2 linked regions of the Homo sapiens genome follow. The protein of the gene in region 1 interacts with the protein of each later gene in a pairwise test. Each region holds a gene or a part of one and is shown on either strand. Other genes may lie near its edges.

Region 1 (3,749 bases):
TGGTGATCCACACCCCCCTCAGCCTCCCAAAGTCCTGGGATTACTGCCGTCTCAAAAAACAAACAAACAAAACAAACAAACAAAAAAAAACGCTCATCCCTCTCTCTCTGCCACCCATGTGTTTTCCTTTCCTCAAACTCTCCACCAGCCTCATCCTTGGAAAGCCTTTGTTGATTAACCCCAGGCAACTTGGGTCCTTCCATTACTTCGTGTATGCACTGGTGACGGTGTTTTGCTGTTCTGTGTGGCCACCATGGTGTGCTCCCTGCTGTGTGATGCCAACCGACCCACAGAACTGCCCATGGAGCAGAAGGCCACAAAGCCCCCGCCACCAACTCAACAGCCCCCTCCCTCATTTCCCGAGTGCTCCTCGTCCCACTCACCTTCCGCTGGCCCTGGTCACTGATGCGCTCCAACGAATCCTCCAGCTCTTTTTTCTCTCGTTCCAAATCTACCTGGGCTTGTCTGGCCATGGACACCTGTTTGGTCACCTCTGCATTCTGCAAAAGAAGAACAGTGTCTTGAACCAGGAGATCCCAGGCTTAGAGGACATCCTCCTTCTAGGACAATCATACTCAGGCTGTGCGTGCCCTAGAGTCAGACACAGGAATCACTTTCCTACCCACAGCCGGAACAGAGCCATCACCTTCAGATGCTTGATGCTCAAATATTTACAAAATAATAAAGAAGGTGGGTGACCTACATGGGATTGGCACCCAGGACACAGCCCAAGACACAGAGGCAAGGAAGCCTGAAAAGGTGTGGTTCCCGAGATGACGGCAATGCCTTAGAGATCAATGTAGGGGTTGCTGGCCCCGGGGAAGCCACAGGCCTGAGCCGCTCTCTCCCTAGAGGTGCAGGGCCTGCAGGATGGTGACAGGGGCTGAGGGTCTTACCTTCCGCAGCAGGTCAGCGTGGTTCTGAACCAGCTCGCTGTACTTCTCCTTTAGCTTGCTATATCGCTGTTCATTGGCTTGAGCTTTCCCTGTATTGTAAAGGACCAAGGTGAGGAGTCTAACCTAGCAGGGACCCTTGCCTTCCTTGCAATGAGCCAGGGTCCCTAGAAGGTCCTCCTTGTTTTGTTTTGAGACAGTCTTGCTCTGTCACCCAGGCTGGGGTGCAGTGGCACAATCACTGTTCACTGCAGCCTTGACCTCCTTGGGCTCAAGTCATCCTCCCACCCCAGTCTCCTGAGTAGCTGGGTTCATGGGCACACGCCACCACACCCGGCTAATTTTTGTAGAGACAGGGTCTCACTATGTTTTCCAGGCTGGTTTCAAACTCCTGGGCTCAGGTGATCCTCCCATCTCAGTGGGATTATAGGCATGAGCCACTGTGCCCGGCCAAAGATCTTCCTTTGATTTAGGAATGCATATATGCTTTTCTCCCTTGAAAGTCCTACTTACAGAAACTTCTCCAGGAAGTCATCTTTAAAAAGAATTCAACTAGTTAAAAATCAAGCCAGGGGCCAAGCGAGGTGGCTCATGCCTATAATCCCAGCACTTTGGGAGGCCAAGGTGGGTGGATCACCTGAGGTCAGGAGTTCAAGACCAGCCTGACCAACATGGTGAAACCCCATCTCTACTATAAATACAAAAATCAGCTGGACATGGTGGTGTGTGCCTGTAATCCCAGCTACTCGGGAGGCTGAGGCAGGACAATCCCTTAAACCTGGGAGGTAGAGGTTGCAGTGAGCCCAGATCACACCACTGCATTCCAGCCTGGGCGACAGAGTGAGACTCCACCTCAAAAAAATAAAACAAATAAATAATCAAGCCAGGGATTCATGCCTCTTCAGCACTTACATACATGGCATTTATTCTATGGGGGCTTTCAGCTTTTTAACAAATTTATTTGAAATTTTTTAGAGACAAGGCTCTCTGTTGCAGAGGCCGGAGTGCAGTGGTGCAATCAGCTCACTGCAGCCTTGAATTCCTGGGCTCAAGCGATCCTCCTGTCTCAGCCTCAAGAGTAGCTGGGACTACAGGCACGTGCCACCATGCCCGGCTAGTCTTTTTTATTTTTTCTAGAGATGGGGTCTTGCTATGTTGCCCGGGTTGGTCTTGAACTCCTGGCCTCAAGCAGTCCTTCCATCCTGGCCTCCCAGAGTGCTAGGATTACAGGCATGTGCCACTGTGCCCTCAGCTTTTATGTCAATTTCTTTGTTAGGACCTCAATCCTCTCTCCTTCTCCCTTAGTATCCACTGCCCAGGGCAAGCACTTCAGTGCTGTCTTCTGTATTTCCCATCTCTGTGCTCAGCGGTGCCTCGCACACAGCTTTGTGCCTGCAGGACTCAAACCCGCCCTCTGGACTGAGGCTAAGAGCTGGCATTCCTAGCTGTTTCTAGAAAGACAGTCTGGGTCTCCCCCACCCAGCCTCTGTGCCGCATCCTGAGTCCAGCTGGGCTCTGCTGCCCGCGCCTGCCCCCGGGGCCCGCCCCCGCCCCCACCCACCGCTCACTTTCTATCTCAGACAGGCTCCGCTGAGCCTTCTCGGTGTCCTCCCGCTGCCTCCTGAGCTCGTCCAGTTCTGCCCGCAGGAATTCACAGTCGTCGGCCGCCTGCTGCCGCAGGTGCTGCTGCTCGGCCAGATCTGCTTCCAGCTCGCTGACGTGGCCCTTCAGCTGCAGCACAACCCGCTGGCTCTGTGGGGGGACTCCGGTCATGAGGCCAACCGCCCACTGCCACGGGTCACGGGCATGGGCCGGAGAAGCGGGTCCTACCATGCTTCCAAGTAAATACCTGATTCCCCTAAGTCAACTCTCCACGTCCCAGGAGGGTTGGACCATCTGGTCATTAGGAGCCCCTCAATCAACAACAATAACAGGGGATGATGGCCGGGGAATTGTGGTCCTCTTTAGAGTGGCTGGGGGTAGCAGTGGCTGTCCCTGTGGGTGAAGTCACCTGACCAGCCACTGTGAGGGGCGGTTGTTAATATAGCACCAACATTGCTCACAGCTGTCTCTTCTCTTTTTTTTTTGGCGGTTGGGGGAGGGGAGGGACAGGGTATCACTATCACCTAGACTGGAGTGCAGTGAGGTGATTATGGCTCACTGCAGCCTCAACCTCCTAGGCTCAAGAGATCCTCTAGCTTCAGCCTCCCAAGTAGCTGGCATTACAGGTATGCACCACCATGCCCAGCTAATTTTTAAAAAGTTTTTTGTAGAGATGGGGTCTTGCTATGTTGCCCAAGCTAGTCTTGAACTGCTGGGCTCAAGTGATCCTTCTGCCTGAGCCTTCCAAAGTGCTGGGGTTACAGGCGTGAGCCACTGTGCCCGGCAAACCAATCTCTCCTTATCGCCATGTGAGAAGGTCTGGTCTTGTTCTCCACAGCTTCTCAGCCTCGTGGGGACCAAGGTCATCTCTGGGTATCAATCACATGGATACTGTGCCTGGCCTAAATGCTGTCCTCATGGCATGTAAAATGGAAATGCATTATGACAGAGAACACGGGAAGACCTGGTTCTTTTGGATTTAGCATTTCTACCAGTTTTTATTTGGTTTTAGAGACACAGGTCTCGCTATGTTGCCCAGGCTGGATTCAAAACTCCTGGGCTTGAGTGATCCTCCTACCTCAGCCTCCTGAGTAGCTGGGATCACAGGTGCACACCACCACGCCTGGCTTGTTTCTACTAATTAACCTACCCTAAGGATGTGGTCCAAAAACTGTCTAGGTGATGCAATTTTTTTTTTTTTTTTTGAGACAGAGTCTTGTTCTATCGCCCAGGCTGGAGTGCAGTGACACGATC
Region 2 (3,749 bases), on another chromosome or scaffold:
CAAGCAAGAAAGCAGGCACTACCACCGAGTGCTGACCACAATGGGGAGAGCCTGAGCTCAATCCCCGCCCGGAGAATGCAAGACGGCGGCCAGGATGAGGCAGGCCTGAGCTTCCACTCCCCGCCCGGAGAATGCAAGATGGAGGCCACGACGGGGCACACCAGAGCTCACTCCCCTCCCAGAGAATGCAAGATGGCAACCAGGAAGGGGATCGCCTCAGTTCATTCCCTGCTTGGAGAATGCAAGACGGTGGCCAAGATGGGGAAGAGCCTGAGCTCCCTCTCCCCACCCGGAGAATGCAAGATGGTGGCCAGGATGGGTTTCAGGCACATCCGTGTGAAGAAGCCTAAACAGGCTTTGTGTGAGCAATAAAAGCTTTTAATCGCCTGGTGCAGGCGGGCTGAGTCCGAAAAGAGAGTCAGCAAAGGGTGGTGGATTATCAATTGTTCTTATAGGTTTTGGGATAGGTGGTGAAGTTAAGAGCAATGTTTTGCGGGCAGGGGTGGATCTCGCAAAGAACCTTCTTAAGGGTGGGGGACATTACAAAGTACCTTGATCACTTAGGGTGGGGCAAAAACAAATCACAATAGTGGAATATCATCAGTTAAGGCTATTTTTACTTCTTTTGTGGATCTTCAGTTACTTCAGGCCATCTGGATGTATACGTGCAAGTCACAGGGGATGCGACGGCTTGGCTTGGGCTCAGAGGCCTGACAACAGGGACAGCCTGAGCTCCCACTTCCCACCCAAAGAATGCAAGATGGCCAGGATACGGCGCACCTGGGCTCCCACTCCCGGCCCAGACAATGCAAGATGGTGGCCAGGATGGGGAGCGCCTGAGCGCAATCCCCACACAGAGAATGCAAGACGGCGGCCAGGATGGGGAGAGCCTGAGCTCAATCCCGGCCCAGAGAATGCAAGACGGCGCCGTCACTTTGGACAACCATTGGTCAGTTTTTTAAAAGTTACATATACCCAGTAACTGAGAAATTCCAATTCTGGGTATTACCCTGGAGATATGGAAACTTACGCCTCCACAAAAAGCTGTATACAGATATTCACAGTTTTGTTTTTTTTTTTTGAGGCGGAGTCTCGCTCTGTCGCCCAGGCTGGAGGGCAGTGGCGCGATCTCGGCTCACTGCAAGCTCCGCCTCCCGGGTTCAAGCGATTCTCCTGCCTCAGCCTCCGGAGTAGTTGGGACTACAGGCGCCCGCCACCACCCCCGGCTAATTTTTTTTTTTTTTTGTATTTTTAGTAGAGACAGGGTTTCACCATGTTAGCCAGGATGGTCTCGATCTGCTGACCTCGTGATCCACCCGCCTCAGCCTTCCAAAGTGCTGGGATGACAGGCGTGAGCCACCGCGCCCGGCGTATTCACATCAGTTTTATCGTAACAGTCCTAAACTGGAAGCCACCCAAATACCCTTCAGTGGGTGCCTGGATCGGCAAATTCTGGAATTGAACCGGCGACGACAAGGAATAAACTACCGACGCACGCGAGAGTCTCAGATGCAGGGCGGGGGGCGGCAGAAGCCGGGTCAAGCCCGCAGGCTGCGGGGTTCAGACTTTCGGAAAAGCAAAAGGTACAGGGCGTAGAGCGAGGTCAGTGGTTGCCGGTGGCCAGGAGTCCGGCCTGAGCTGGGGCGAGAGATGAGCGCTTTCTGAACACCTGAGATAAGACTGTTCTAATTCCTGAGTGTGAGCTGGAAGCTTTGGGATCCACCCGGACTGAAGCGCAGGGAAGGATGACCCCTGGGCGGCTCTGAAGACAGTGAGAGATCAAAAGAAAGCTGCTCCCAGACAAAGGCAGCCGCCCTGTGCAGCTTCTCCTCCTCCCCTGACTCCCAAACGCAAAGCCTCTTTCACTCTCTGCCGGGTCCCAGCCCGCCTGGCGGGGGTGAGTCGCGGGGGGCACGGGGCACCCACCTCAGACATGGGCATGCTCCAGAAGTTATCACGAATCTTCGGGGCGGCCAGTTCCTTCAGGCGACTCGACGCTCTGTATTCCAGGGAGGACCGAGGAATGGGCCAGACAGGAGTCGTCCTGGGGGAGGTCCCCATTTTAGACCAGCAGCTCGGCCGGGGGTGGGGGTGTGTGTGTGTGTGTGTGTGTGTGTGTGTGTGTGTATGTGTCTGTCTGTCTTTCCCAGCTCCTCCATATGTGTCTGTCTGTCTTTCCCAGCTCCTCCTCTGTTTCTGGGGTTAAGAGAGCCTGGGAGAGTGGTGAGTTTTGAAAGCGTCTCCAAACAGGGATTCGTAAAGAATTTCTAAGAGTTCTCAAGTACAGAGCTACCATCTCCCAGGGTTGTCTCTGCTCAATGTGCAACGTCCACCCTCAGGTCCAGGCCTTCTCCATTCCCTTCTGGGACGGCAGCTCCTCCCAGGCCTTCTCTACACACCCCCATCATCAAGAGCCTGGCGTGAGCACTTGGACCCAAGGGATGAAAGTGTCTGTCCTGAGGTTGCAAAGCTGGGGAAAGCGAAGGACAGCTGAGCTCCCGGGGCTGTGCCTTCTGAAATCAGGTCTCAGCTATGCCTCTGCTCGGAAATAAAGCCGCATTTCATTGATTCTAAGGCAAGGTCTCCACATTGAACAGGTCTGAGGTTAGGATGCAGCTTACGAGTGCTGCCAGCCAGATGGCGGAAGTGTCCTGGCTACATCTGGCTGCATCTGTGTGTGCTGTTCACGTGATCTGCACTGCTGCTTCTACAGGAGTTAAGTTTAATTACAGTTTAAATTGTCTTCAGGTCACAGTATGATTTGGCGTTAAAAAGTGCACAGAGGCGTGAGGACAGTGTGTGCGACACCCACATCAACGTCTGTGTCAGAAGTGGTTCAAAACAGTTGGACACACTTCCGCTGTCTACTTCAGCTGTGCTTTCCTTCATACGCTGCATAAAAGATGGGTAATTATATGTTGTGTCTAAATAACTAAAGATCACTTTTAACAAGCACAGGGGCTGTAAGTGGTAAGAAAGAATTTTGTACATAAAATACTAATGTGTCTTAGAATTTCCACCTTTTTTGAGTAAACAAAATACAGTCACAATGGTGATAACATCTGAGCACGCACTGTGTCAGGCGCTGTGCAAATCCCCGTTCACGGGTGCCCTCCACCACCATTCCACAGCTGGCAATGCAGTTGCACGGGGCCAAGCAGCCTGCTGGGGATGTGGACTGGGAAGCAGCCTGCTGGGGATGTGGGCTGGGAAGCAGGCCAGCCCCGTCTGAACACCAGCTGTCTAGGGCTAGGACCTGGACCCTTTCCCACACAGCATCCTGTCAGGCGAGAATAAGGCATTTCTGCCAAACTCTGCCTTCTGAGTAGCCACCCAGCCCTCCTTCCCCCACCTGTTGTTGTTGTAATATTCCAGGTAGAATCTCTTGGGCCGAGACAGTTCCTCCACGCGGCGGGACACCGCTATGCAAAATGGGAAACGGAGTCAGTGAACCCCAGTGTCAACACCCTGCAGTTCCCAGGGGCTTCTGCATGCGGAATTCAGCTTTTCATGAGCTTGGGCAGGAGGCTGAATTGGAAGAACTGTGGGCAGAGACAACTGGGGGCCAGACACCCTGCAGAGAGAAGATTTGCTGTCCCTGATTTAGGGACAATGGGCTCAGAGGCTTGAAGGTCCTTTCTCGGACACCGGATGGGAGTGGCAGGGCTGGAACAGCAGCCCAGCACCGTGGCTCCTCAACGGGGCTCAATACAGATCCAGGGACCCACAGGCTGGGAAAATGGGTTTTG

What was found. Proteins that work in one complex are often made in the same cells at the same time.
Region 2: the proteins of HIP1 (region 1) and SPMAP2 interact in binary tests that used the Homo sapiens proteins (3 or more experiments, as listed by UniProt).

The regions. Positions count from the first base shown.
Region 1 is NC_000007.14:75,557,271-75,561,019, forward strand, and holds part of HIP1 (huntingtin-interacting protein 1), read right to left. Parts: intron 2,646-3,749; coding exon 2,462-2,645; intron 986-2,461; coding exon 897-985; intron 501-896; coding exon 384-500; intron 1-383. UniProt on the Homo sapiens protein: Plays a role in clathrin-mediated endocytosis and trafficking. Involved in regulating AMPA receptor trafficking in the central nervous system in an NMDA-dependent manner. Regulates presynaptic nerve terminal activity.
Region 2 is NC_000019.10:369,279-373,027, forward strand, and holds part of SPMAP2 (sperm microtubule associated protein 2), read right to left. Parts: intron 3,423-3,749; coding exon 3,353-3,422; intron 2,893-3,352; coding exon of another isoform or gene 2,886-2,892; exon of another isoform or gene 2,094-2,885; intron 2,045-2,093; coding exon 1,927-2,044; intron 1-1,926. UniProt on the Homo sapiens protein: May be involved (but not essential) in spermatogenesis.